4 linked regions of the Homo sapiens genome follow. The protein of the gene in region 1 purifies or fractionates together with the protein of each later gene. This does not show direct contact. Each region holds a gene or a part of one and is shown in the gene's direction. Other genes may lie near its edges. The genes, in order: CA10, ASS1, TSC22D1 and PSMG2.

The links.
Region 2: the proteins of CA10 (region 1) and ASS1 purify together in Homo sapiens (affinity purification with mass spectrometry; 4 studies listed by BioGRID and IntAct, with this or other methods). This does not show direct contact.
Region 3: the proteins of CA10 (region 1) and TSC22D1 purify together in Homo sapiens (affinity purification with mass spectrometry; 4 studies listed by BioGRID and IntAct, with this or other methods). This does not show direct contact.
Region 4: the proteins of CA10 (region 1) and PSMG2 purify together in Homo sapiens (affinity purification with mass spectrometry; 4 studies listed by BioGRID and IntAct, with this or other methods). This does not show direct contact.

The regions. Positions count from the first base shown.
Region 1 is NC_000017.11:51,742,575-51,750,297, reverse strand, and holds part of CA10 (carbonic anhydrase-related protein 10 precursor), read left to right. Parts: intron 1-2,479; coding exon 2,480-2,665; intron 2,666-7,723. UniProt on the Homo sapiens protein: Does not have a catalytic activity.
Region 2 is NC_000009.12:130,447,768-130,455,490, forward strand, and holds part of ASS1 (argininosuccinate synthase), read left to right. Parts: intron 1-2,088; exon of another isoform or gene 2,089-2,188; intron 2,189-2,504; exon of another isoform or gene 2,505-2,566; intron 2,567-4,456; 5' UTR 4,457-4,461; coding exon 4,462-4,566; intron 4,567-6,537; coding exon 6,538-6,606; intron 6,607-7,723. UniProt on the Homo sapiens protein: One of the enzymes of the urea cycle, the metabolic pathway transforming neurotoxic amonia produced by protein catabolism into inocuous urea in the liver of ureotelic animals.
Region 3 is NC_000013.11:44,565,892-44,573,614, reverse strand, and holds part of TSC22D1 (TSC22 domain family protein 1), read left to right. Parts: coding exon 1-452; intron 453-7,723. UniProt on the Homo sapiens protein: Transcriptional repressor. Acts on the C-type natriuretic peptide (CNP) promoter. Acts to promote CASP3-mediated apoptosis.
Region 4 is NC_000018.10:12,706,042-12,713,764, forward strand, and holds part of PSMG2 (proteasome assembly chaperone 2), read left to right. Parts: intron 1-508; coding exon 509-680; intron 681-6,660; coding exon 6,661-6,719; intron 6,720-7,723. UniProt on the Homo sapiens protein: Chaperone protein which promotes assembly of the 20S proteasome as part of a heterodimer with PSMG1.

The DNA.
Region 1 (7,723 bases):
CATTAAATTATGGGTCTATAAGTATGAGTGTGAAAATTATATATATGCCAAAATATTAGTGGTGATTCCTGTTTAATTGTGAAATTGTGGTCGATTTGCTGTCCCATATCTTTCGAACCATATAATAATGCCTATGTATTATCTTAATAATTAGAAAAAATAGGTTATATTTAGAGATGGAAGTCACGTCTAACACAAATCTGTCTTGAGCTATTGTACTGAAAAGGAAGTTATGGGAAATGAAAAGTTCTGATTATCTCACACTAACTAAATATACATTTATTTGAGGCTGGAGAACAGGAGTGAAGTCATTGGCATGGATCATTTGGTTGCAAGGAATAGATAACTTGAGGTTTAAAAATGTATTGGTAAGGTGTAGAATATTAGAAAGTACAGTTCAGGCCTCTTGAAGGAACTAGAACGAAGAGACACAAAGATATCTGAAGCGAAGTAGTTATTCTCCCCATTCCCTCCCCCGTTCCCCAGTGTGTGGTCTCCTCTGTCAATGTTGGGACATCTGCCTCAGTCCTCTCTCTCTGATCTGACTTTCTCTGCTTAACAGTATGGTTGGCACTCAGGCGACCTTGCAGTTCAGGAACTCAACGGAGAGTTTCTGTTGATAGTTCCAGATTTCACAGGAGAAAGAAGATGACTGACTTAGTGTCTATCAGTTCCCTTTTGCTGCATAACAAACCACCCCAAAATTTAGAGACTTAAATAATCATTTAGCTCCAAGCCTATGGGTCAGTGGACATTTCTGACCTGGGCCAGGCTAAGCTGATCTCAGCTGGGCCAGTCAGCTAGTGGATCAGCCACAGAGTAGCCCGTCTAGACGGCCTCTCCTGGGATGGCTCTCCTCACTGTGGCCCCATCCTCCAGCAGGCTAGCCCAGGCTCATTTGCATGGTAGTTTCACGGCTCCACGAAGAAGTGAAGAAAACACGCATGCCCTCAAGGTCTACTCTCAGGACTAGCATGTTGTGTGCAGCACATGCTGTTGGCCAAAGTAAGTGACAAGGCCAGCCCAGACTCGACGTAGAGAAATAGCCTCTTATCTAGATGACAGCAGTTACAAAATTACATTGTTGGGAGTGTAGTTATAGGGAGGGGAAGAATTCCTGTCATTTTTGTAAACTGCACATAATCTCTAGGGGCCTAGGCTGACATGAGCTCCATGCAGTCGCTGCACCACATTGCCATTTCCATATAATGCCATTGGTCGATGTACCAGGGAAAGGTGAGTCTGGGGAATCCACTATTTCAACCTGGAAGTGACACTTGTCATGACCCCTCCCAACCCATGGCCCCTATCAGTCACATGGGCTCCATTCTACAGTAAGGTGGCAGGAAACAAAATGAGTCACTGGAATATTTGGTGAGCATTATGGTCTCTGCCACAGTGAACAACTCAAGAGCTAATCATTCACAACACCAGTGTCAGAAAGGTGGAAAAGAGGCAGGTAAAAGATAGTGCTATAGAGCACATATATGAAAACCACATCTAATGAAGGTGTCAGAAGGTACAGGAAGCCCTTCAGGAATCACTAGGGCTGAAGGCTTGGCCCAAAGTCAGAGTAAGCAGGAAGAAAATCCAAATAGTTCAGCCTCCTGTAACCCAGAAACACTCCTTCCAGACTCATTCAAAGTCTCCCTAAGCTCTAGATCCTACTCCCAGAGCTAAGTCAACCCAAGAGAGTAAGAAAGTAGAGTTTCAGATGGGAATGAGTGTTCTAGAATCAATTGTTGTTGAGGTCACAGTCAGGAAAATGAAGCTGAACATCAAGTCCCAGCAAGAAAAGAAGGAAAAGGAATGCCAAGCAGTCATGTTAGCAGTTTGAAGGGGCTGGAGCAAGATGGAATCAGGAATAAGGAGTAAGTCTAGGAATCTATGAAATTGGAAGTTTGAGTGAATCCCTTTAGTTTACCACTTGAGGCCCACAAGCTATGAGGATTCTGTGCAATGTCTGGTTGCAGGGCAGGACACACCAGATAGGACGCTTGAGAATTCAGACCTAGGCTTTCCATCTCCCATGAGCGTCTGCTTCTAGTCACTCATTTTCTCTTCCCTGTCTCATTTGGCCTTCTTAATATCTCACCCCTTGCTAACTGCTTTCTCCAATTTCTCACAGCTGAGATTTAGAACTCTTGCAGTATCTTTCCATTCCAAATCCTTATAGTAAGAAGGACAAATTCATTTTTTATAAAATACAATGCACAAAATATTAATCACAAATGATGAAAAGTCTCCTTCAAGTTCTTACCTCAAATTCCTAAGCCATCATGTGGTTTATGCCTCACAGAAATTACCATAGATCCCACATATACCCTCTGGGGCAGCTGCCACGCCCTACTCCACATGTGGATTTAGCCCATCTTCCCATCAAGAGGAAGCAAAAGGTGTTGATCCAAGCACCATGCTGGGTTTGGGGAGGCATAGAAGAAGGAGGGCCTTGCTTGACCTGTTGCTAATTGCCTTGCAGGTCAGTGGGACCATGTACAACACTGGAAGACACGTATCCCTTCGCCTGGACAAGGAGCACTTGGTCAACATATCTGGAGGGCCCATGACATACAGCCACCGGCTGGAGGAGATCCGACTACACTTTGGGAGTGAGGACAGCCAAGGGTCGGAGCACCTCCTCAATGGACAGGCCTTCTCTGGGGAGGTATGTTAGTCTGTCAAAGTACTAAGGTTAAATGTCAACTTATAAGATTGGGTGCCTGTTTGTGTCCAAGATGGGATAACATAACAAAGGGATTCGCTCTAATCTATGAAATGAGAAGGCCCATGCCTTCTTTCTCCATCTGTCTTTTGCAAATTGACATCGAAGTCAATAACAAGCTTCTAGTATTTTCCAGGGAAGGCTACAATGAAACTAGCTCTTTCCTTCTGAGACAATGTTGCAGCTCTCTTGAGACTCATGTCCAGTGATATTTCTAGAGCATTATTTCAACCCCAAATCCTCACCTTATATATATAATACATCTTTACTTACACCTATCTGGGCGATCAGCCTCTCACGTGTCACATATGATAGCACAGATTCCATAACTTTTCTTTTGAATATAATGAGTCATATTTGCATAAAACTATAACATACTGTGAAATAAGTGTCAGGCAACTCAATAGTTTTCCTGAGTTTCTGCAAAATGGAAACGTCACTGTGTGCCACCATCAACCCAGACAGAACTCAGGCCACAGCAGAGAGCCCAACCACAGTTTCATTTATAGGACAAGAGCTACAGTTTAAACAGTTGTCATCTGTGGTGTGACACTTCACAAGTAGGGTGTAGGTAATTTGATCTGTTTTACCCCCGTTATACTGGAGGGTGTTTATGAACTAGAGATCAGGGGTCCTTACAGGCTAAATGCCCTGTGACTAGGTTTCTGCTTAAGAGTCCTCAATAACTGATGTTAGGAAGGCTTTGAAATTACAAAAATATGTATTGCATGTGGTGTTTTTATTTTTTTAAAGATCATGTATAAATCTGGCCTTATTTTTAGTGTGTTAAGGCCAAGCACTAAGAAACAGACCCACAATCTTAATGAGTCCAGCAGCCAGATTTTAATGTGCATCCAAAATGTGTCACTAAGAGCCTGCCTAGGCACTCAGCTAGTTACCAGGGATACAGAGATTTAAAAAAAGGGCTCCTACCACAGAGGAGCTCAAAGAGTGCTACATTCAAGTCATTAAAGTATAATGTCATGCTGTAATGGGGATGTACAAAGGCCCTGGCAAACTCAAAGGAAGAAGTGGTAAATTTTGCTTGAAGGGGTCAGGAGAAGCTTCACAGAGAAGGTGCCCCTTGAACTGGGCTGTAAAGAGAGGCAATGATGAACAATTTTAAGACCATCAGCTTTGGAGTCCAGTGACCTGAGTTTTGTAGTCTTGCTTTGATACACACTGTGTGATCTTGGGATGTTACTTGAGCCTTCTAAGGCACAGTTTAGACACCTCCATTTTAAAAATTAAGTGGGATTCCAGATGTAAAAACACTGAAAGTACTCAATGATTGATAAACAACAATGACAAAGCAGGAAATGAGGGCTAGTGCGAGCAAAAGCCCCGAGGCATGTCAGGGCAGTGTGTGCTAGAGAAGCTGCATGATTTCATCTAGCATTTTATCTGTGATCTGTTAATCATGACTCTATAAACAATAGGGTTGAGCTGTAGTATGGGTCTCCCTCCTGGATCTGTAGGGAAAAAAAATACTAGGATTGATTAGGGATGTCTGCCAAAGGCATTGTAATGCCAGGCTCCCAAGTTGCAGATTCTGAACTAGAGTACAACAAGAAATGTAATGAAAGCAGGACAGAAAGTCACAATTTGAGCATAACTGGGTACTGCCGGTCTGAATTAGAGAATATTCAAAATTAGATGAATTCTTCCTCTTAAGTTATTTTAAGGTTTGTAATTATTTTATCTGTTGACTTACTTGCTCATTTTTTTGTTTGCTGTTATTTCTTTTTCTCCCCCATATTCTGTCATATTCCAGCACCTATCACAACACTGCTTCAGAGTAGAAATATTTGTTAAATGAATAATTGATAAAATGTAGATGTTTACTAGGCTAAAATCTTTACATTGTATTATTCTTTAGTGACACTTGTTTCTTCAGTATATGATAAGGGTGCTTTGTAACTTATACGTGAACCACAATTTTAGAGTAAATGAGTGCTTCCAAAATCCTTAAGGGAAACATATAGTAATTTGATCTCTTAGTGTATGAATTTTCCTAGACCTACACCAGACCACAGGTATCAGGTGCACCAAAGAATTTGCATTTTAAAAGTTCCCAGGAGAGTCTGACGATTAGGTTTGTGAAGCACTTCCACAATGGTACATTATTATGTGTTCCCAGTGAAGAAAGCAATGAGTGAAGAAAGCATGTAAGCAGGGTTGCAAATCACAATGAACTGGGAAGCCTTGTCAAAATATTTTCCTCTCAGTCCTTCCCAAAACCAACTGAATCAGTCTCAGGATATAGGATCCAGGTTTGTACATTTGTAAAACTTTCCCCAAGAGATTTTGGTTAGCGACCACTGTGACAATTTTAGGTGAAACTCCGCCTGAATTATCCCAGTTTTCTAAACAAAGGGGACTTAATCAACAAAATCACACTGCTAAAAAGGGGGGAAGGCACACACATTGGTAATTGTCCCCTGGAAATGGCAAGGCTGGGATGCTATCTAGACTAATGAGACTTGGAGAACAGCTTCCCAAGTAGGGTGGTCACACACACACATCCACTGCTCCAATGTAGGCTTGAGCACTGGCCTCAGCATAGGTATAATCTACCTTGCCCTGGGTAGATGCAGTCATCGTATCACATTTCTTTCCAAGCCTCTCAATGTCAGGGGTCTATAGACGAACTGGTATGGGTTTAGGTGCAAGAGACCAGAATTTCAGAGTCCCCGAAACAATGCTATATGCAAAGTAGTGCGATAAGCAGTTGACTTTTGAGATCCCATTTACGGATTTCAGCAAGCAAGAAGAGTTTGGCATCTTCTGTGTAGCATAAGGGAAGACACCTATGGCCAATGGGTGGTAGCTACAAAAAGATGGAATTCAGCTGCATATGTGTTCTAACGATGAAAACGATACAGTGATGAAATGAGTTTGCCTCTGAAAATTGTGACTTCATATTACTGGAATTATTTTATTTATTTATTTATTTATTTAGAGAGAAAGGGTCTTACTCTGTTACCCAGGCTGAAGTACAGTGGTAGCACCATCACAGTTCACTGTAACCTCTAACTCCTGGGCTCAATCAATTCTTTTGTCTTGGCCCCCCCACAAAGTGCTAGGATTATAGGTGTGATCCACTGCACTCAGCCCCATTACTGGAGTTATTAAGCACTGAACAGAATTTGGTGACTCCATAAAGGTGACTCACATTCGAATGAGCAGGGGAAACTGTCAGTTTTAATGTATCTTCTGATGCTGAAATTCTATACAATCCATAATTTTTTTTTTTTTTTTGAGATGGAGTCTCGCTGTGTCACCCAGGCTGAAGTGCAGTGCCATGATCTCGGTTCACTGCAACCTCCACCTCCTGGGTTCAAGCGATTCTCCTACCTCAGCCTCTCTAGTAGCTGGGATTACAGGTGTGCACCACCACACCTGGCTAATTTTTTTCAGTACAGGTGAGGTTTCACTATGTTGGCCAGGCTGGTCTTGAATTCCTGACCTCAAGTGATCTGCCCACCTCGGCCTCCCGAAGTGCTGAGATTACAGGCGTGAGCCACTGCACCAATCCATGATTTTCTTATAGAAATTTCCTTCAATTGTATTCTACTGAGGATTAGCCTCAGTAAAAGTCAACATATCTCACCCTGAAGGTTAACTTTTTAAAAAATGAATTTCAACTTTTATTATAGATTAAAGTGTACACATGCAGGTTTGTTATGTGGGTAGATTGCGCGAATCTGGTTAACTTAATTTTTATTTTGTGCTACCTTCAAAGCCACCTTTGGCCTCTATTTTTGGCTATCCTTTGAGAGGACCCAAGTAGACACTTCTAGCAAGAAAGCATGTGTTTATTTTGTTGACAGTGAATGATCACATTGCCATCTGCCCTATCTATCACTGCTGATCGTGATAAGTCAATTAATGCCAGGCATTTTCCTTGGCACAGTGCAACAGTCGTTATCTGAAGAGCTATAGATTAATTGCAGTCTTGTCTAGTGAGGTTATTGTAATTGATGGTAATCATTTGCTTTGTTTTATAAAGCTGCATGGATGTATGACATAGTCAGCAACTGCATTTTTATAAAAATTACTCATGTCCTACACAGAGAACTCCTGGATTCCTTGTTGGGGATTGGTGATAAATGAGCACATTCAGGGATTCAAATGTCTCCATTTCTTTAAGAAGGAAAAATGAACTGTTTTTAATAAGTAAGACCCTTAGCTTGCTAATCATGTCTAAATGGTTAGATTAATGTCCAGTATAAAGTAGGATATTTATGAAAAGAAGAAAATACATTAGCCAGGGAAAAAATAATATTTGAAAAGAAACATGCCTTAGATTCCATTGCAGTAGTGGGGGCTGGACAAGAAGAATCTTCCTGATTTGGGATACATTAGACAAGTTCATTTAAAAATCCTTCCTTAAGTTCTTCTTTTCAAGGGGGCAGAAGGGTACACGGAGAATTGTACCAGCCACTTCATGCAAGATCTATAGCCAGTTCCTCCTGTTAATTTCATCCACTCTTCACATGCTCTTGTGCTTCTGCCATGTGGTGGGCTCCGAGCTAGGCATGGGCCAGAGTGCAGCTTCTGCCCACAGATGTGTAAAGTCTATTGAGGGATGTATATTGATAATACCACATAATGTGGATTATATTTGAAGCTTATTCCAGAAGGGGATTATGAAATAGCTCTCACTAGATAGCATTAAGCAAAGAATGGGTGAGCAGCTGTGCAACCTGACCCACTTGCTGCTCCCTCTGACAGCAAGATAGAAACACCTTGACCTTGCTAGCTCTCAGCCTCTGGAATCTCTGATCCTGCTCAAAACACATCTGAGAGAGGGAAAAGTCCATAGCTGTTGCTATGGTGATATAGATAGGATGTGTTTCATTAAAAGGGGAGAATTAAAGTCATATGTAAAATATGGGGCTTTCTCTCTTGCTTTCTCTCTCTCTCTCAGTGGCTCTGAATCAGAAAAGAGAAAACAATTATCTCAGAACCAACAACTGAAACAAAACAACAGAAAAT
Region 2 (7,723 bases), on another chromosome or scaffold:
CCCAGAGGGCTGTCAGGTTGTACAGATGAGGAAATTGAGGCTTAGCAAGCCAGGAACTTGGCTGAGGTCAGCCATAGCAGCGGTGCACAGAGCTTAGTGGGCACATACATGCTTGGTGCCCAGCTCTGGGCTCCTTCCCCCAGCATCTCACCCAATCCTTACAGTCGCCCTGTGGGGAGCAGGCTGTTTGCACCCCTATTTTGCAGCTGAGCAGTTATGCTAGAGAGCTGAAGCCACTCAAACCCATGTCTGGTGGACTTGACCTCTGTCCTGTGCCTGGAGTGAGCGCTCACTGGATTGCAGCTGTGGTTCCTTCTCTCCCTGTCACTTCCTCCCCCGACATCAAACCCTCAGTTTCATTTAGTTTTTGCCTCGGGCTGCAAATGCAGCTTAGGGACCTGCGGAGGCTGAGGGAGGGGGGTGCCCCACCCGCTGCTGGGAGGGCAGGAGCAACGCTGCTGTCTGATTGCATCATTTTCCCAAGCCCATCTGCCCAGCTCATTTCTCTGCATGCATACACTGGCCCCAACACCCACACACGTGTGCATGCACACAGGCACACATGTGCAAGCCCAAACACATCACACACATGCATGCACACACATTGTGTACTCTCAGGTACGCACCCCTGGGTGCACACAGGTGTGTGCGCGCGCACACACACACACACACACACACTGTCTCAGGTACACACGCCAGGTCCATGCATTGCTTCACACTGCCCAGCCCCAGAGGCTGAAGGCCTCAGAGCCCACACCTGCCCAGCTACAACCTGGCAGGCAGGAGGGGCTCACTGGTTTCTTTTGGTTTATTTAAGACAGAGTTTCACTCTGTCACCCAGGCTGGAGTGTGGTGGCACGATCTTGGCTCACTGCAACCTTTACCTCCCAGGTTCAAGCGATTCTCGTGCCTCAGCCTCCCAAGTAGCTGGGACTACAGGTGTGTGCCGCCACACTCAGCTAATTTTTGTATTTTTAGTAGAGACGGGGTTTTGCCACGTTGGCCAGGCTGGTCTGGAACTCCTGACCTCAAGTGATCCACCCACCTCGGCCGTCCAAAGTGCTGGGATTACAGGCATGAACCACTGTGCTCGGCCATGAGAGCATGTGTAGGACTCCACAGCTTCAGGGCACCCCAGCCCTCTTTTTGCGGTGAGGAGCTGACCTCCAGAGAGTGGAACTAGTAGCATTGTTCTAAGTGCCTGCCACAGGCATCTGGGAGATGGTCCCTGTTTCCATGGAGCTCATAGTGGGGGAGAGGGCAGTTAGAATACAGCATGATGGCCGGATGTAGTGGCCCATGCCTGGAATCCCAGCACTTTGAGAGGCTGAGGCAGGCAGATCGCTTAAGTCCAGGAGTTCGAGTCCAGCCTGGGCAATGTAGTGAAACCCCATCTCTACAAAAAATACAAAAATTAGGCAGGTGTGGTGGCATGTGCCTGTAGTCCCAGCTACTTGGGGGTGGTGGCACTGAGCTGGGATGGGAGGATCCCTTGAGCCCAAGAGGTGGAGGCTGTGGTGAGCTGAGATTGCATCACTGCACTCCAGCCTAGGTGACAGAATGAGACCCTGTCTGAAAAAAAAAAAAAAAAAAAAAGGATACAGCTCTGATGGGCAGGAGGCATGGCGGGTCACTGAGGCGATGCAGGTGATCCAGCTGTTTCTGTGGAGCTGCCCCTCCGTGTTTCTGTGGAGCTGCCTCTCTTGGCTCCAGGTGCCTCTGGGAGGAGGCAGGAGCAGGGGTGACTCTCAGAGCTGGGTGAATCTTGGGCCAGCATCATCAGATCACACTTGCCCAGGACTTCCCTTCCTTGAGTCTCCAGTGGTGGTCTTGTACCTATGAGCAGGGGGTTAAGGAGCCGAGCTGATCTGAGTTGGAGTCCTGGCTCTGCTGCCTACCAGTCAAACGAGATGCAGGGCAAGTTCCTCAGCCCAAGCCTCAGTTTTCCTGACTCTAAAATGAAGAGAACCCCAGATGGAAGGGCTTAGCCTAAGACGGACATGTCTATTCCCTTGATTGTGGTGTTGATGTCACGGGCGCATCCGCACGCCGAAACTTGCTAAATTGGACACAAAAAAATATGCGATTATTTTTGTAGTTGATGAATGTGCTGATTGGGTATTCTCGTGTGTGTGTGAGGTGCCACCCTCAAACTTTGTTATGATGTTGGCACATTACCCATCTGATATTTAAAAAATGCAATTTATGATATGTCAAGTAGACCTCAATAGAGCTGTTTTAAAACATACAACAGAATTTCCCGCAACCCAACCACACCACCCGCGCCATCACACGCAAACAGGGGTAGGCTTCCACATATTTCCTGAATGCCTTCTGGAGCAGGGGGCAGGAGGCAGGAGGCAGGACAGGTGGCTCTGGGGCTCCTGGACCTCCTCTGCTCAGTGAGGCTGCTCACAGGAGATTGGGCGGCTGGAAAGTAAGGTTTAGGGCCTCTGGGATGGCCCAGGCTACCTGCAGGCAGCTGAGTAGCTCTGCTTTTGCAGAGTGGTTCACTGCACTGTGAAAACAGATTCCAGACGCCGGGAACTCACGCCTCCAATCCCAGGTACTGCCCACCTTAAGTCCTCCCTGCCTGCCTTCCTCCCTCCTTCCCTCCATCCTGCATGGCCAATTGCCTGGCTGCAGTTGCCATGGATACCACCTGCTGGCTCCAGGGTTAGGGCTGGCTGAGTCACCAGCAACTCAGGGGCAGGGGGTTGAATGCCCAGTAGGGACGTTGTGGGCACCGACCAGAACCATCTTCTCTGCCCCAGCTGCATGGTCCATGAGGTGTTTCCCCTTCTAAGTCCAAAGGGCAGCACAGGCCTGTGAGCCCCGGCTGACTGGCAGGTGGGACCGTGCAGCATGCACGGGACTGAATTCTCATGTGACGGAGCTCCAAAGTCCACCTGGCTACACGGCCAGGCTCTGCAGCAGAGGACGGGAGGCCTGGGAAAGGCACTTCCTCTCCCCGAGCTTCCAGGCACACAGAGAGTGCTCAGGATAGCGATGCCTGCATCACTGCAATGGTGATGGCCGGGTGACCCTTCTGGGCTCCACTTCCCCAGTAGTGTCTAATAAAGACCCTGGGTGACTCTGACCTTGTGACGTTGGTCAGACTCCAGTGGAAACGTTCCCAGGCAGAACAAACATGCCCTGTACATTTGGGAAATGCGGGATGCTGGGGCCAGGTGTCCACGGAGGCTGGAACCAGGAGGCCTGGGCCCACATCTGCCCCTGCTGCTTGTTGATCCGATGACCCTGGGCAGGTGACCTCGTCTCCCTAACCCTGGTTTCCTGTTCAGCAAATTGGACACAGTGAAGACGCCCAAGCCCAGGGCCACAGGAGGCATGTGGGGGAGGGGGGTGCAGGGCGAGCCCAAGGGCAGCCCAGGATTCAGGGAGAGCCCTCGGGGAAGAAGCATGGCTGCAAAGATCAGGAGACAGGAGGCCTTGGCGCCTTCGGGAGGCTTCATTGTGACGGAGGGTGGGGCAGGATGGGAGACCGCAGGCACTTCCCGGCTGCAGAGGGCCTGGCTGCAGAGAGCCCTCGTGCCCATCTGTCCCCCCGGGAAGGGCCGCTGGTTGCAGAGGTCTTAGGCCTCTGCCTGTCTATCGCCTTCCCTCCCTGGGCCTCAGTTTCTCTACCTCCACACTGGGGGAAGTTGGTCTCTGAGCCCCTCCAAACTGGGCATTGGCAGAGTTGAATTCAGAGGCGCTCACATTTGGAGACACGATGTCTAAAATTCCAGCCAGTGAAGGTTCCATGGGGTTGCAGGTAGGAGAGGGACTGGGGCTGGGCCCCTGCCCCACAGCATCCTTCTCCACCTGCAGGTGGGCGGCGGCACTGCGTGCTGGGGAAGCACAGATTCTTGTGCCCTCTGTGACCTTGAGCCTGCCACTGACCTCTCTGAGCCCTGCTGGCTGCCTCCCCAATAGGAATGACAACTCCTACTTCATGAGGTTGTAGTGGGGGCTCAGGGGCACAGGGAGATCCCGCTGAGGCTCCCAGGGCCCTGCCTGGTGCTTGGCAAGGAGCAGTTCTGATGGGGGATGTGTCAGCTGCCAGAGGCTCAGAGCCAAGGCCCCTCCCACATCTCCTGCCTGCGTGCATTCCTCACATCCTGGCCTTGGGCCAAACTGCTCAGCCTCAGCCGCCTTCCCTCGATGCTGGAGGATCAGGTCCAAGAGATGCCTCTCCCCGACCAGCCTAGGACTGCAGTCAGCATTCCCAGGCCCCAGTGTGGTCTGTGGGGCTGTGTGCAGAGTGTGCGAGGTCAGGGTTCCCGGGGGTGGCAGGCACTGAAGGTGAACATCCTGTTCCCGACCTTCAGTGGCAGCTTGCCCAGGAGACAAGGCTGTCCAAGGCCAAGGTCGGGGCTGGGCTGTCTGCAGGGGCTGGCGGGGGGCACTGGCTGTCTCAGGGTCACTCAGGTTGTTCCTCGACTCCCGCCAGACGCTATGTCCAGCAAAGGCTCCGTGGTTCTGGCCTACAGTGGCGGCCTGGACACCTCGTGCATCCTCGTGTGGCTGAAGGAACAAGGCTATGACGTCATTGCCTATCTGGTGAGGGAGCGACCTGGGTGTCTGTCTTCCTGCGTGTCCTGCAACCTGTCCTGTCTGCCCCCTGCCAGCCTCTGTCTGGGTTGTCAGCCTGTCTGCTCACCGTCACTCATTCAAGCCTGGCCTCTTCTCTCGAAGCCTGTCTTGAACTGGAACTAGGAAAATAGCTTCTCGTTGTACTGCCTCACTTTCTCCATCTGCAAATTGGCCATCCTTGAGATGCCTTCCAGAGCCAGGTGATGGAGGCGCGGGGAGGGCACAGAAGTGAACTTGGCAGTGCTGCTGGCTTAGCCTGCTTGCAGAGAGGCATGGGCTGGGACCTGCTGCCAGCCCTGGGAAGGCACACAGTCTTCCCATCTCCAGAGTATGCTGTCAGCCTGCAGTAATTCAGCAAAGATTGTGGAATCCTGAGCTGGAAGGACCCTGGGGGATCACCTGGTTCTGGGATGGGAAATAGGTCACAGGTGATGGGTTATGTGTGAAGCCACTTCCTCATCCAGGGCCCATAGGAGTCATCCCTCTCAAACTAGCTCCTCTTCGACTGAACCTGGCCACAGCTCTGAGTCCTTCTCTGTGTGGCTGTGCTGTTCAGGACTCTTAGGTGCAAATTTTAGAAACTGAACTCAAACCAACTTACGCAAAAAGGAAAGGGAAAAGACAATTCTTGGCTCACACAACTGAGAACTCCAGGGGTAGGATGGCTTCAGGCAGGGCTGGATCCAGGTGCTTCTAAGATCTATCTCCAACTCTACTTGGCTTCATTCTTGGCCTCTCCACAGGGCAGGCAAGGCTCATGGTCACCCTCATAGCCCACCTTTCCCAAAAAGGAGGGCTTACCCCCAGTAGGGCCCATGGGGACCCACCACGCATTAGTCCCTATGGCTGCATCATGGGGTGCGAGGCTTGGGCCATGAGCCTACTCCTTCAGTGGGCGGGATTTCTTCCTCTCCATCCCTGTGGAATGGGGTCCACCCAGGAAAGAAGGTTCTGTTTCCAGAGGAAGTGAGCCTGGGTCTCTGGACAGACAAAACTTAGCTCTTGCCAAAAGTGGCTTGTTTGCCGGCATATTGGCATGTCTAACTGCGCCCAATGCCCTTGTCATTCAGGTTGGGGAAAGTGAGGCCCAGGGGAAGAAATACTTTGCTCACAGTCACCTGGTGGGTGAGAGCACAGCTTTGAGGGGCTGCAAAGAGCCCAGGGTGTATCCATCTCACTGTAGGTAGCACAGCGGGGCAATCAGAGCTGGAGCTGGGCGTATAGACCCCTGGGCTACCACCTGGGGGATTTAAAAGCTGAATGTGATTCAGATAAGCACCTGCAGCTGGGCTTTGGCAAGATTCCAGGGTCTGGTGAGCCGAATGAAGGGAGTGAGGGCTGAGGCCAGGATCTGGGCAGCAGGCCAGAGTCCAGGCAGCAGGAAACATGGCAGTGTCTAGACAGGGGCTGTCAGACCCCGAGGTCAGGGCACTGGCCACAGGGACGGAGCTGGAAGTTCCTGAGCACGGGCTTCTCTGCCTCCCGCCTCTCAGCTGCCTCAGGATGGCCAAGGCATGGCCTTTGACTAGGGAGGAGAGCTGGAGGCTAGGAAGGCCCTGACAAGCTAATCTTTGCACTGGCTGAGAAAGAGTTTTCTGGAAAAGACAGATGAGTTTCAGGAGAACCCTAGACCTTCCAGCAATGACAGCAGATGGTTGTCTCCCAGCAGCCTGTGTGGCCAGGGCCAGGCTCAGCCAATGCTCCAACCCATGGAAGCCACCAGCCATCACCACGCTACAATCCAGCTCCCAATCTCACCTCCTGGAAGAATCTCACCTCTCCAGGCCTTGGGCTTTGTCCTTTTTCCTTCTTACTGTGACTTGGCCATGGAATGGAAGCTGTCTCTGTAGCAGGGGGTGGGAGGCTGCTGCATGCGGATGGTGTGAACTCAGGGCTCCCCCCAGGGGCTGACGGAGCCTCTCCGCTTCTGCTTCTCAGGCCAACATTGGCCAGAAGGAAGACTTCGAGGAAGCCAGGAAGAAGGCACTGAAGCTTGGGGCCAAAAAGGTACCAGGCGGGAGGCAGGGATTTGGGCTGGGAGTGGGGCGGTGATGTGGAGGGCAGTGGTGGATGCTCCTGCCCCAGGGATCCCATCCCTTCCAGTGTGTCTTCTTGCTTCTAAGAGTATGAGATCATCCTGCTCTCAGGTGTGTGAACCCTCTTGTTTTTCTGCCTCCCCCACGCCCTCTTCCACCCACCCACCTTCCCATCCAGGTGGAGTGTCTCTTCCCCACCCACATACCTTCCCTTCTCTTTTATCTCTCTGTCCATCTATGCACCCACTCACCCTCTTTTATCTCTGTTTATCTACTCGTCCACATATCCATCCATCATTCATCCCTCCATTAGCTATCCATCGATCCATCCATCCATCCATTCAGCCATCCATCCATCCATCACCCACCCATCCATTCACCCATCATCCATCCATCCATCCATCCATCACCCACCCATCCATTCACCCATCATCCATCCATCCATCCATTCATCCATTCATCCATCATCCATCCACCCATCCATCCATCACCCATCCACTCATCCACCCATCCATTATCCATCCATCCATTCATCCATCCATCCATCATCCATCTATCCATCTATCCATCCATCCTCCGTCCATTCATCCATCATCCATCCATCCATTCACCCATCATCCATCCATCCATCATCCATCCATTCATCCATCATCCATCCATCCATCCATTCACCCATCATCCATTCATCCAGCCATCATCCGTCTATCCATCCATCATCCATTTATTCATCCATCATCCATCCATCCATCCATCATTCTTCATCCTTCCATGCATCATCCATTCATCCATCCATCATCTACCCATGCATCCATCCATCATCCATCCGTCTATTCATCCATCCATTCATCCATCCATCATCTATCCATCCATCCCATTATCCATTCACCCATCCATCCCTTCATTATCCATCCATCCATCCACATATCCATCTGTCATTAATCCCTCCACTGTCTATCCATCCATTCATCCAGACAGCCAGCCATTCATCTATCCATCCCCCATCCATCCATCCATCCTTCATCCATTCACCGTTTTTCTATCCATCCATTCATCCATCCATCCATCTGTCATCCATCATCCATCCTTCT
Region 3 (7,723 bases), on another chromosome or scaffold:
GTTAGTTCTTTGCCCTCTGCTAGTAGTATTTCTGTTACAAGTCAGGTTAGTTCAACTGGTCCTTCTGGAATGCCTTCTGCCCCAACAAACTTGGTTCCACCACAAAATATAGCACAAACCCCTGCTACCCAAAATGGTAATTTGGTTCAAAGTGTTAGTCAACCTCCCTTGATAGCAACTAATACAAATTTGCCTTTGGCACAACAGATACCACTAAGTTCTACCCAGTTCTCCGCACAATCATTAGCTCAGGCAATTGGAAGCCAAATTGAAGATGCCAGGCGTGCAGCGGAGCCCTCCTTAGTTGGCTTACCTCAGACTATCAGTGGTGACAGTGGGGGAATGTCAGCAGTTTCAGATGGGAGTAGCAGCAGCCTAGCAGCCTCTGCTTCTCTTTTCCCGTTGAAGGTGCTACCGCTGACGACACCCCTGGTGGATGGCGAGGATGAGAGGTAAGATCATGTCATATTTCTGGAGACATTCAACAGATTTGAAGTTAATCTATTTAGTAGCTATATGTATGCACAAAATGACTCTAAAACATTGTATATTGTGTTTTGTATGTGAAAAATGCATTTTTATGGGAAGTTTTATAGAGCAAGAGTTATGGAATGGTTTCAGAGGGAGTAGGAAATAATAGTAATATGTAAACAATATTTTCAGAATAGTTGTTGAGCATGTGTTCACATTAAAAACAGGTTTGGGGGCGCCAAGTGGTTTTATTATCTCTAAAATGCTTTTTAGAAATATTATGGAAAGCTTAATTTTTGCTAACCCACATAATAGTTAATCTATTTTGAGCTGCTAAAATAATCTCTTGGGGGGTTGTGGTTCCCACGTTTGTTCTCCTTTACTAGACATCCCTTTTTCATTTCTACTGTGTTTGATCTTAGTCTGTGAAAGATATTGTTGCCTACTTTTCCTAGTCAGATATGGTAGGAAAGATGACTTAATCTGGGTTATATAGGTTGCCCTCATACTCCAACTGACCAACTTTTGCGTACTTATTTAATGGTCATTTTATCTGAACAGTAAAGGAATGGGAATCTTATTTTGTGGGAAAGGAGGACATAAACTATCAAAATAACCAGACTTATCTTGATAGTATGCTGAACATTTTTTCTTTTGCATGGTAGATCAAGGTGGTAGCCATTTTAAAGAACAGAGAAAGTAAGTCTTGGAGGATTGAATTTATAGAGGCGTGAAAATAAGACCTTGGTCTCTGGCTAATCTACTCCACCTGTTCCTTTCTTTCCTTACCAAAAAGATACAGAAAGCCTAAAGTACATTATTAAACCAAGCGTTTTTTCACGTAGATTGGAAATAATATGCCAGTAACGCTTATTGAATCAAATTGTGTCTTTGAAGCTGACTGGCTAAAAAAGTTGTGAAATCTTTCATGTTGATTTTTAAAGTAATGTTCTTTTCACAAATTTTCCAGTCTGTTACTAACCTTGATTAAAATGCTATTATAGGAGTTATGAAAAGACATCATTTTCACGGTGGAATTTGGAGTAAGCGTGCAAGATATTTAATTATTTTAGTATTAGTTGGAGGGTTTTGTGATTGAACTTTCATCAAGCGAATTTAAGCATTTATATTCTATATGTATGTTTGTGGGTTTTGCTTTGGAAAAATTGAGCATATTGCAAAATAGTTGTAATTTTAGAAAAAGAAAACAGGTCAAATGTTTCAGTGAGGTTTGTGTTATTTAGTTGTTTAAAAGGTAAGATAAAGACATGGTTAAATTGATAAAATCTTATCTTTCAAGATTTTTATTATTTTTCTAATAGTCAGGTAATTAAAACCTTGTTACCTAACCAAATGTATTCTGTATTATTTGTACAAAACTGTACTCTAAAAGATAAACTTTTAGGAGGTAGTTTCCTTAATTGTTCCATTATTATTGTTAAACCTTTAATTTTATCATGCTAATACTCAACTAATTTTAAAAGAATTACCACAAATATTAATGTTTTTTAAGTCAAAAGGTTATGATTTGAGTGAAGCCTCTATAAAAACAGCTATATTATGTGGATGCTAAGTTTAGAGAAACAAAAGACGGGTAAAATACACAAACAAAAACACTCATTTTGAATTCAAACTTGCCATGATTTTGTAATTGCCATTTGTGGTCTCCTGGCTTGACTTTCACCTCTTTTTCCTCCTATTGGTAGGACATGATAGGATTTTCCACAGCTTGCCCTTCCAGGCAATTAAAGTCAGATGATGCTACTTTCAACTAGAGTTTTAACTATAGGAATAGGGTCCCAGTTTAAGATATTAATATAAAATTAATTTTTCCAGATAATAATTGAGAAAAGGAATAATAAGGTGGAAATTATGGAATTCTAGAAAGGGACAAAAAGACATACTGAGAAATAAGGAAATATAGCTCTAATACAAGTTGTCTTCAGACACTGTACACATTCAATTATAATTATGTTTAGCAGTCTCTCCCACAAGACCAGGAGTTCCTCAAGAGCAGGGACTGTTTTGAATTTACTACCTATTTGGGCCTTGGTTAGTTAACATCAAAGTTTCGTGATTAAAAACCAGAAAATTTTTGTTTTAGCGGTATCTTAAATTCTGTGAAATCGGAATGTAGCCCTAAAACACCTTGTAAGATCAGAAAAGATATATATTATATTCTTTATTGTGTTTTACTGAAGATTATTTATCACTACAGTTTGGAAAAAAGTTAATTTTCATTTAAATTTGCCCTTGGAAGATAATTTAAGAATAACTACAAGAGAAAACAGTGATATGATTAAAAAACAAACTTTTAAAACCTTTCTTCCCATGGTAGCTTCTGTTGTCACTTGCATCTTCTGGGCTTGGTCACCATTAGTCTCAGGAGAGAGGGAATACATATATAATTTCAATATTATGAATCAGGAAATGTGTTAACAATATAATTTGGGCAGTAGGACAGATGAGGATGGTTATCTTTTAATCATCTTTTGAAATAATACTCTTAACACTTTAGATTATAAAATGTTTAGACATGTGGAAAGTGCCTTCAGTTGATCACTGGGAGAGACTATAAACATGGATCAGGATGCTAAGATTATGTATCTTGTTTTAAAAAAAATCATTCTTATTTAAAAGGTCTTAATGTCAGGCCGTGTGCGGTGGCTCACACCTGTAATCCCAGCACTTTGGGAGGCTGAGGTGGGCAGATTGCTTGAGCCCAGAAATTTGAGACCAGCCTGGGCAACATGGCAAAACCCTGTCTCTACAAAAAAATACAAAAATTAGCCAGGCATGGTGGCGCATGCCTGTAGTTCCAGCTACCTGGAAGGCTGAGGTGGTAGGATCCCCTGAGCCCTGGAGGTCAAGGCTGCAGTGAGCTGGGATCATGCCACTGCACTCCAGCCTGGGTGGCAGACCAGGACCCTGTCTCTAAAAAAAAAAAAAAAAAAAGTCTTAATGTCTTAGACTGTAACATGAACTGTGAATTCACCTTTACAAGAATGGGAAAATACAGGTATTGCATCTTTTATGTTTTGTGATTGTTATTAGCACAGCCTCTTAACGTGAAATGGGTCAAACTTCTATTCATCCTTCAAGACTCAGCTCAGATGTTCTCTTTAAAGCATTCTTTTCACTCAGGGGACATTGTTTCCTTAGCACTTTTTAATATTCCTCTATTTAAGCACTGTACACATTCAATTATAATTATGTTTACCAATCTTTCCCACAAGACTAGATGTTCCTCAAGGGCAGGGATGAATTATTTTTTTGAATTAATTAGCAGGCATTTCTCCTGATTTTTTTTTTGTCATGATTTAAAGTTTATATTGTCCCTCATCTTAAGCACAATTGTGAGAGATGCAGGATCATATAATTTATGCAACAAATGGAAAAGAACTGAATAAAAAGACTTGCTTTTTTGTATCTCTCATCAACATTTTTAGGTGAATTGATGTATGTCTGCAAAGTACATTGCCTGTTTTATAGTAGGTCCTCAAATATTTAAGACGCATGTGTGTTACCTATAAAATAGGAGTAATACTCATTTTGCCTGCTTCTCAGGATAGCAGTAGTATCAGTTAAAATACTTTGTTAACTAAAATACGAAATTATAATTTTTAAAGTTTTTTTTTCAAGATGTACATGCACAGTTTAAAGATAGTTTAAATGGTTTTCCAAGAAATAAATGGAAGAGCTTCCTGCACCCTTACTTTCCAGTTTTCCTTTCCTAGAAACAATCACTTTCACCTCTTTTAGATGATTATTGTGGTATTTACCTCCCAGTCTCTAAATAACTTGCTTGTCTTACCACTAGATATGTAATATAGCCTGCTCGTTAGGAGCATGGACTGTGGAGTTAGATTGCCTAGATTTGATCTTTCTTGTCATTTACTAGTTTTATGTAACATCGGGCTATTTATCCTCTTTATGGTTCAATCTTCTCATTAAAAAAATGATGACAATAGTAGTTACCTCATTGGGTTGATATAAGAATTAAATGAATTTGGAAATTCCCTAGAACTTTGTCTAACTCACATGCCCTATGTAGGTATTTGTTAAATAAAATACACCTTTCATTTCTTTTTGTCTGTATTAACTTCCTGGATAGAAAATGAAGATTTAATTTTGTTGTTACCATATACCTACCTGGTCTCCTTTTTTCCCAGTACCCTTCCTCCCAGTAGTTATCAATATTGATTATTCAGTATTCTTGTCAAATATTACTTTTCCTATCCTGTACAGTGTTTTGTGGCTGCTTCCCTGCTCCATCCCCACCTGTCTATTATAGAAATGGGTTTTCCTCCACTCCCAGGTTTTCATCTGTCAGCGCTGTCTGTTTTCTCCAAGTTGCCCCTCCTTTCCCCACCCTCTTCCCATTTTTGTATGTTTTGGGCTCTACCTTTCCTGTAGAACCTTTCCTTAGATGTCTGGTAAGTCTTGATTGTCTGCTTGCAAATAAGTGTTAAAGGATTAAAGAGCTGATTAGAGATTTGCAGTGTGGGGCTGGCCATGGTGGCTCACGCCTATAATTCCAGCACTTTGGGAGGCCAAGGTGAGAGGATTGCTTGAGGCCAGGAGTTTGAGATTAATTTGGGCAATATAGCAAGATCCTGTCTCTACTATATATATATAATTATTTTTAAAAATTCTTTTTCCGTGTGGCTTGTTGACTGTTAACTTTACCGCAGAGTAATCTGGCTGGAGTTCATTGTCTTTTTTTACCTCTTTGCCTAGTTTTCTCTATATTTATCACTAAATCCACTTTTCATCAGATGCCTCTTAGGATGTTCCAATATCAGATATTGTTAACAATTTTATCTTTCTCAGGAAGTGTTATATCCCACTGACCTCCATTCTTGACTGGTTGCCTTCTTGGCTTGGTACACAACTATTATTCTGGGATTCCTTTCACTTTGTCTTGTGTTGGATCTTTATTTTCCAGAGACTAGTGTCTTTATTCTTAGTTTGCTTGTTTTAAAATGGCTTTAGTTTACTCTGACACTTTCTTAGGTAAAGAATACCAGGTGGGGAAGTTATGTTCTCTTATATTTTGTGCCATTGCCTTCTAACATCCATATTGCTTTTGAGAAATCTGAAGCCATTCTGATATCTTATATATTGTATGTGACCTGTGTATTTTGTTTTTCCTTCCCTTCCTTTTCCTTCTTCCTTTTCTTCCTCTCATTTTTAAAACCTCTAAAACCTTTATAAGATTTTATGTTTCCAGTGTTCTGAAGTTTTGCCATGATGGATTTTTGTGTGGGTCTGTTTTCATTCACTGTGCTGAGTACTTGGTGAACCCTTTCAGTTTGGAAACATCTTTTCATTCTGGGACTTTTTCTTGAGTCAGGTTGTTGATTATGTCTTTCTATTTTTTCTCTCTTAAACTCCTCTTATTTGGATAACGGACCTTCTTGACTGGTCTTCTAATTTTCTTGTGTTTTCTCAACTACTTTTCATCTGTTTTTCTTTTTGCTCTATTGAGTTTCCATTTCCCTTATCACATATTTAAATTCCAAGAACTTTTTTTTTGCTCCTTTTTAATAGTATACTATTCTATTTTAATAATGATAGTATTTTTTCTTAGCTATCTGAATATATAAAATGTTAGCTTTTTTAAAAAGTTTTTTTTTTCTTTCTATGTGGTGTTTCCTCTAGGTTTTATTTTCTTACTTTTTATTTGCTTTGGTCTTTATCTTTCATCTTATAGCCTTTCCTCAGATAGTTGGTAGTCATGTGTAAGAGTAAGGAATTAAAATGCTAATTAGAAATTCTGAGCGTGGCTTGTCAATTGTTAGCTTTCCTGTATGGTAACCTGGCTGTGGTGTTTGGTTGGAGGACTTCTAGTGTCGGTTTCTTCTTGTATATCCTCCTAGCTGGTTAGATCCCTATAAGAAGGCTCTTCTGATTTCTTGCTTGGAATTGAAGGCCTTTCTACAAGCATTCTGTGGGGTGGGCAGTGAGGGGGATGTGGAATGAAAGGTTTTGGGGGATCCCCAGATACGTTTCTTCACTCAACCCTGTTTTCAGTATGTTCTGCATTTTGCTGTGCCTGATTTCCTTAGTCCTGTGATCCTATGTTTTACCTTCTTCAGACAATATTCCTTTTTTTTTCTTGGGATTAGGGAGGGACAGTTGGGAATCTGTAGGACTGGTTGCTTCTTAAACTGACTTCTAAACAATCTTTTTAATTTTAGCACCTTCTCCCCCCACATCCCACTTATATAGATGTGGTACTGCCAATTCCTGAGTCTTTTGGGGATTTTGCAGTTTAAATTGGGTTTGTTTTTGGCATTCTCCATTGTTTGCTAAAGCTTTGATTTTCTAGTGTTTGCTAAGTCATTTGTCACTCAACTGTCTGCTTTCCAGCTTTCAAATTTTTTTGCTATTGTCTTTTCATCTGCCTCAGTTTTTGTGGGCTTATGTCTTTGTATCTTAACAAATTGCTTTTCTGTCATTTTAGTGGGGTTTTAGGGAAGGAGTGAAAAAATAGATGTGTGTGTTTAGTATCATTACACATCTATTTCAATGGTAGAATACTGTACTATTAAATGTAATGAATGATGCTAATTTTAATTAAGTCATAGCTCCAAGTTAGTTCTCTAATGAATACATAAATTTTAAGAGTGGAATTACTTAGTTTATATTTGTTAGAAATAAGAATAGTATGTAATTCAGAATTTCAGTTCATAGAAGTGATGAAAAATGTTAGTATTAGATTCAGTTAATGTCTACCATATTTAACCACTCAGTAATCTTGTGAATTAAGTTTTTTTCTATTTTATTGGTGAATAAACTGAAACTTGCTGAGTATTTAGAGAGGGCAAGTTGTCTAAGGTTACATACATAGCAGTAAAGCAGAGCTAGGATTCAAGGCTGTTTTTCCAATTCGAAATCTAGTGCCGTTTTTACTTCTTATAAAGCTAATAAGAGGTAAGGCCAGTGCCCATAAGGAATTTTTAAGAGTGTCTGAAAACCTAAAAAATAGGCAGGCTTCATTGCTTTGTGTATTCGTATAACTGATGGAATTGCCATAGAACATAACATTTCCCTGCAAGTCCTTGGTGAGAAAAAAGTGGGTAAAGTCATCACAGTGGTGTGCCTGGAATGCATTAGACATTCAAATGTTAAATGTTAAGGTGGACATGTTTTATTTATTTATTTTTTCTTTTGAAACTTATGTGGAAATTTTAGGAAAACCATTTTAATTTTTTAATAATTTAGATCAGCTTTTGCAGCATTAGCT
Region 4 (7,723 bases), on another chromosome or scaffold:
CAATAAGTATTTGTTAAATAGTCTCAAAGGTGGAGGAGGCCCCAGCAGTTGTAGTTAATGAAAATCAATATCTAGCTATGATGTTATGATGCTTTCAGTACTAATATAACTATTGTATTCTGTCTAAACTTTTTGAAGTGCTGTGGGCCAGGCGTGTTGGCTCACGCCTGTAATCCCAGCACTTTGGGAGGCTGAGGCGGGTGGATCACCTGAGGTCGGTGGATCACCTGAGGTCAGGAGTTTGAGACCAGCCTGGCCAACATGGTGAAACTCCGTCTCTACTAAAAATACAAAAATTAGCTGGGTGTGGTGGTGCGCGCCTATAATCTCAGCTACTCAGGAGGCTGAGGCAGGAGAATTGCTTCAAGCCAGGAGGCAGAGGCTGCAGTGAGCCAAGATCACGCCACTGTACTCCAGCCTGGGAGACAGAGGCAGACTCTGTTTCAAAAAATAAAATAAAGTGCTGCTAATTTTGGTGACTTACTGAACATATCTTTTATAATTTCAGCCAGCAGTATCTGTTGGAAATGTTGGCCAGCTTGCAATGGATCTGATTATTTCTACACTGAATATGTCTAAGATTGGTTACTTCTATACCGATTGTCTTGTGCCAATGGTTGGAAACAATCCATATGCGACCACAGAAGGAAATTCAACAGAACTTAGCATAAATGCTGAAGGTATGTAAGACTTTACCTTGTATTTTTCCACTACAAAGTAGAGTTGTTTTAAATTAGAAATAGACTTTATTGATAATTGTTTTGTAGCAAATGTTTACTTAGTGCCAACTTTGTGTAGAGTTCACAACCCAATCACATTGTCCTATTCTTTTATGTCCTGGTTTTAGTTGTTGTTAGCCTCTTGTAAATGGCAAGTCTTACGAAGGTTGAGAATAAGATCATACTTGTATCTTTTTTTTTTTTATTATTTTTGAGACGGAGTCTCGCTCTCTTGCCCAGGCTGGAGTGCAGTGACGCGATCTCCGCTCACTGCAAGCTCCGCCTCCCGGGTTCACGCCATTCTCCTACCTCAGCCTCCCGAGTAGCTGGGACTACAGGTGCCTGCCACCGCACCTGGCTAATTTTTTGTATTTTTTTAGTAGAGACGGGGGTTTCACTGTGTTAGCCAGGATGGTCTCAATATTCTGACTTCGTGATCCAACCGCCTCAGCCTTCCAAAGTGCTGGGATTACAGGTGTGAGCCACCGTGCCCAGCCCATACTTGTATCTTTTCTAGAATTTTTAAATTTCCTTGTTTTTCAACATGGATTTTTTTCCTTCTATCCTCAGTTTTATCTCCTGTTCTTACTGGTATGTGTAACCATCACTAATAATATGGAAAGGCGAAAAGTAGATTGCGCTGGACTCAGTCTTGTAGGTTTAATATATGTTACGTCAACTAAGTCTTATCCTCGTAGTCATCTTCTTCCATTATAGGATCCATAATAATATGGTATAGATAAGGCTCAAAGAGATTGACTTGCCTGATGCCACTAATAGGTGTAGGCTTTTCCCATACTGTAAATCTTTGTAATTCCTCATTGGACTATCAGGCTTGATTAATCAGGGAACACTGGTTATAATGCAGCACAGCACCAGGTGAGTAAGAGAAGAGCTCCTGTTGATCATGAAGCATGGGAGCACCCAGTTACTACCTTTGATGGCTAACTGTTCTGGTGATCTTTCAGTCTTCTGTTTACCATTTTAAGGTCAAATCCAGAGGTGACAGAAGAGCATGAAAGGCCTTTGGTGAATTGAAAGACAAATGAAGAAGCATTTTGGTTTTTGTGTCTTACTAACCATATCATTGTTTTTAGCTTGCGATAGTGAAATGTACATTTGAGAAATGACCTTATTATTGAACTTCCTACAGGACAGATGGCTTTGTCAACGCAAGACTAAATTTGAGTTACTGCCTCAGAGGATAAAGGACTATAAATGGTTAAAACCAGAATTCATGACCGGGTGCGTTGGTGCACATCTGTAATCCCAACACTTTGAGAGGCTGAGGTAGGAGGAACGCTTGAGCTCAGGAGTTTGAGACCAGCCTGGGCAACAAAATGAGACCCCATCTTTACAAAAAGAAAAAGAAAAAAATTAGCCAACCTGTAGTCCCAACCTCTTAGGAGGCTAACTAACTTGGGAGGACTGTTTGAGCCTGGGAGGTTGTGGCTACAGTGAACCATGATGATGCCACTGCACTCCAGCCCGGGTGACAAAGTGAGACCCTGTCTTAAAAAACAAAAGCCCCTAGAATTTGTATACTTTCCACTAGTGATAACAGCTATCTTTTATTGAGTATTACTATGAGCTAAATGCCATGTACTTTTTTTTTTTTAATGAGATGGAGTTTTGCTCTTGTTGCCCGGGCTGGAGTGCAGTGGCGCGATCTCAGCTCACCGCAGCCTCCGCCTTCCAGTTTCAGGCAGTTCTCCTGCCTCAGCCTCCCGAGTAGCTGGGATTACAGGCATGTGCCACCACACCCAGCTAGTTTTGTATTTTTAGTAGAGACGGAGTTTCTCCATGTTGGTCAGGCTGGTCTTGAACTCCCAAAATCAGGTGATCTGCCTGTCTTGGCCTCCTAAAGTGCTGGGATTACAGGCACAAGCCGCTGCGCCCAGCGGCGTTTACATGTAATTCATTTAATCTTTACAACGTTCTTTTTTTTTTTTTTTTTTTTTTGAGACAGAGTTTTGTTCTTGTTGCCCAGGCTGGAGTGCAATGGCACAATCTCGGCTCACTGCCACCTCTGCCTCCCGGGTTCAAGCGATTCTCCTGCCTCAGCCTCCCGAGTAGCTGGGATTACAGGTGCCCACCACCACACCCGACTACTTTTTGTTTTTGTGTTTTTAGTAAAGATGGGGTTTCGCCATGTTGGCCAGGCTGGTCTCAAACTCCTGATCTCAGATGATCCGCCTGCCTCGTCCTCCCAAAGTGCTGGGATTACAGGTGTGAGGAGCAACTGCGCCCGGCCCCCGTAAACTTTATTTTATTTTATTTTATTTATTTATTTTGGGTGTTTTTTGAGACAGTCTCGCCCTGTTGCCCAGGCTGGAGTGCAGTGGCACGATCTCGGCCCATTGCAACCTCTGCCTCCCGGGTTCAAGCGATTCTCCTGCCTCAGCCTCCTGAGTAGCTAGGATTACAGGCACATGCCACCACGCCCGGCTGATTTTTTGTATTTTTAGTAGAGACGGGGTTGCACCATGTTAGCCAGGATGGTCTCAATCTCCTGACCTCGTGATCTGCCTGCCTCAGCCTCCAAAGTGCTGGGATTACAGGCGTGAGCCACCGCGCCCGATTTGAGATGGAGTCTCACTCCGTCACACAGGCTGGAGTGTGGTGGCGGGATCTCGGCTCACTGCAACCTCTGCCTCCTGGGTTCAAGAGATGCTCCTGCCTCAGCCTCCCAAGAAGCTGGGATTGTAGGCACTCACCACACACCCAGCTAATTCTTGTATTTTTTTTTTTTTTTGACAGAGAGTTTTGCTCTTGTTGCCCAGGCTGTAGTGCAATGCCACGATTTTGGTTCACTGCAACCTCCACCTCCCGGGTTCAAGCAATTCTCTTGCCTCAGCCTCTGGAGTAGTTGGGATTACAGGTCCACGCCCCCACGCCCAGCTAATATTTTGTATTTTTAGTAGAGATGAGGTTTCACCATGCAAGTCAGGCTGGTGTTGAACTCCTGACCTCAGGTGATCCAACCACCTTGGCCTTCCAGAGTGCTGGGATTACAGGCGTGAGCCACCACGCCTGGCCTAATTTTTGTATTTTTAGTAGAGACAGGGTTTCACCATGTTGGCCAGGTGGGTCTTGAACTCCTGACCTCAGGCAGTTCACCCGCCTCAGCCTCCCAAAGTGCCGGAATTACAGGTATGAGCCACCACGCCCAGCCCTCATAAACTTTTTTTTTTTTTTTTGAGATGGAGTCTTGCTCTGTCGCCCAGTCTGGAGTGCGGTGGCACGATCTCGGCTCACTGCAAGCTCTGCCTCCCGGGTTCACGCCATTCTTCCGCCTCAGCCTCCCAAGTAGCTGGGACTACAGACACCCGCCATCACGCCCGGCTACTTTTTTTGTATTTTTAGTAAGACGGGGTTTCACTGTGTTAGCCAGGATGGTCTCCATCTGCTGACCTCATGATCTGCCCGCCTCAGCTTCCCAAAGTGCTGGGATTACAGGTGTGAGCCACCACGCCCGCCCCTTTTAAAGCATCTGTGATTTCACCATTTATCTACCCAAGCTTCACCATAAATTTGATGTTCTTGCTTCAGTTTAAGCAGAATTCATGTTGCTGTGATAGGGGCACTTAATGCCTTATCCTTCTTAGTGCCTCAAACCAGATCCTTTTCAGGCGTGTTACAGCAAGTCAGTACAAGTTTATTTTGGTGCAAAATGTTTTCGTAAGTACACATTTCCTGTGAACTTTTTGAAGACCCCTCATATATCCGATTGTTGTGCTGTGCCCTTGAAATCTCTTTTACTCTAGAGCAGTCCCTTTTTTTTCATCACAAACCGATTTATTGAAGAAAAGACTAGGTGTATTGTTTTGTACAATGTCCCACCTTCTGATTTGTCTGATTACGTCCTCTTGTCACTTGGCTTGTTGTTCTAGCCCCTGTGTTTTCTGTAACTGGAGTTAGCTCTAAAGGCTTGATTAGATAAAAGGTTAATGTTTTGGGGCAGAATACAGAAAAGGTGTTGTTGCTTTCGTAATGTATCACATCAGAAGAAAAAAGTACTAGGAAACAGGAACCTAACAACAAAAAGAATTGCATAGGCCGGGCACGGTGGCCCATGCTAGTAATCCTAGCGCTTTGGGAGGCCAAGACGGGTGGATTGCCTGAGCTCAGGAGTTCGAGACCAGCCTGGGTAACATGATGAAACTCTGTCTCTACTAAAATACAAAAAATTAACCCGTTGTGACGGTGTGCATCTGAAATCCCAGCTACTCAGGAGGCTGAGACAGGAGAATCGCTTGAACCCAGGAGGTAGAGGTTGCAGTGACCCGAGATCACACCATTGTACTCCAGTCTGGGTGATAGAGCAAGACTCTGTCTTAAAAAACAAACAAAAAACAAAAATTAGCCAGGCGTGGTGGTGTGCTCCTGTAATCCCAGCTACTTGAGAGGCTGACACACAAGAATCACTTGAACCTGGGAGGCAGAAGTTGGAGTGAGCCGATATCGCACCACTGCACTTCAGCCTGGGTGACAGAGCGAGACTCTGTCTCAAAAAAAAAGAATTGTATGATACGCTGATGAGGAGAGTATTGCTATCACCGAAGAAGTGGTAGCTTACATTTTAAAAAGCTTAGCCTGTCCACCCCCTACAGATACATTCTTTTCAAACCTAGGTCAGTTGAATTGGACTACATGTGTTTGTCACAGATAGGTTAGAGGCTGAGTAATCTTTGCCTTAGTCTCTTTTCCCTAAATTTATACCCTTTTCCCTAATTCCTAAACTTCCTTTGGACTGAACATACCTGGTGCTTGCTAGATTTGCTGAGTTCAGCATACCCCCCAGTCACACCACATCACGCCAGCCATAGGAGACAATTTCCGAAAGACCTGTAACAGTAGAGACCTGATCCACCAAAGGATTTGCTGTTATTTGCAATCTGTTTATGGTAACCAACACTTACCCCTTAGCACAGTAGTAATCCTGTGTCCTTAGAGAGTATTTTATCCCTGACTCAGGAGCTTCTCATTCTTTTTTTTTTTTTTTTTTTTTGAGATGGAGTCTTGTTCTGTTGCCCAAGCTGGAGTGCAGTGGCGCGATCTCTGCTCACTGCAAGCTCCGCCCCCCGGGTTCACGCCGTTCTCCTGCCTCAGCCTCCTGAGTAGCTAGGACTACAGGTGCCCGCCGCCAAGCCTGGCTAATTTTTTTATTTTTTAGTAGAGACGGGGTTTCATTCACCATGTTAGCTAGGATGATCTTGATCTCCTGACCTTGTGATCCACCTGCCTCAGCCTCCCAAGGTGCTGGGATTACAGGCGTGAGCCACCATGCCCAGCTGCTTCTCATTCTTAGAAATGAAGTTGGGCAGGGAAGCCTTAAGCATTTCTAGAGTGTGCCCCTTGTAGAACCTGATGAAAGCTATGGATCCTTTTCCCAGTAAAAAATACAAACACATTGACTCACATGACATTTTATGTTATTTCAGATCCTTTAAAAAGTTCTAAGGAACACACATGTACCTATTTCAGGATTTTATTACATGGCTAACATTCTCCTACCTTTTACTGTTTTTTCTGTTAATCCCAATGAGTGTTGCTGTTCTCTGGAGACAAAGAGGGGAGAATATCAAAAGCCAAAAAGTTCAGTTTTCTTAAGGATGATTTTATTTGTCATAATACCAGAAATTTTCAGGGGAATACTTCTCTGGTTTTGCAGTTAAAGTCAAAAGAAAAATAATTTTTTATATTTTCTTACAGTTAACTTTTCAGAAATGAATCTGTTCCATAGAATAAAGCCCACTGGCTTATTTTAAGGTACTTCTAAAAGGTCTTATTTTAACCAGATGTCATATATGTTCCGTATTTTAATTATTGAAAACATTTAAATGCAAAAGGTATTATAATTCAATTTTTGTTTATCATAATAATTTCAACTTGTATAACTTCACTGTCATATGATTTCATTTTCTTCTTGTTTTTATAGTGTATTCATTGCCTTCAAGAAAGCTGGTGGCTCTACAGTTAAGATCCATTTTTATTAAGGTTAGTATGTTGTAGTTTGCCTTTTTGTTTATTAAAGTGTAATGAGAAAATAAGTAACATTAGGGATTAAGATTCAAAAATTACTACTGTTTTTACCATATGTACAGTTAAGATCTGATTCTACAGAGAAATAATCTTACAATATTTCAGATGTGTTACTGTCTTTTCATGATTATATAGAAAGGAAGCAGGGCTTTTATCTTGAGTGTTAACATATTTTCAGTTCGGGTAGCATTGGTGAAAAAATGTAAGCATATTAATATTAGAGGTTTATTCCATTTGTATTACCTTTCAGCTGGTGGCATCTACATATAAACTATGTATATATCAAATTATGTATATGTCATAAAATATTCTGAATCCGACTTCTTTCCTCCTCCACTGCTGTCATTGAGTGCAAACCAGTGTCATCTTCATGCCCCTGACTAACTTGCTGATCTGCCTCCCACAAACAGCAGCACTGATGATCCTCTAAACGTACACCACATCACTACTCTCTTTGAAACCCTCCAGTGGCTTCTCCTCTCACTCAAAATTGTGATCCAGGAAAAGGGGCTCGCTTCCTGATGCACTGTGACACCAGGTTTTTGAGACAAGAAAGGCTTTATATTGCAAATTGACTCCCAAGGAGACAGGAGTCGACCTCAAATCTGCCTCCCTGTGCTGACTTCAAGGCAGTGTTTTTATTAGAAAAGGTTCAGAGGGTGGATTCTGAGATCAGTAGGTGAGCGATGGAAGGAAAGGGGACATCTGGAAGGTCCTTGGGCATGCACAGTTATCTCCTCATGCTAACTCATAGGGCTCATGTGCCAATTCAGGGGAATGAGTATGAAACGTGATGGAGAGTCAGCTTGCGACACCAGGAAGCTTGTTCTCTGCAGACTCTACTTGGCCATATTGGTTCCAACCAATTTCAGCCAGTTCTTTTATCCCATAAGGGGAGGAAGTTTCAGTATTTTACCAAGTAGTTTCTTATCTGCTACCCTGCAAACTCAATAATTTCT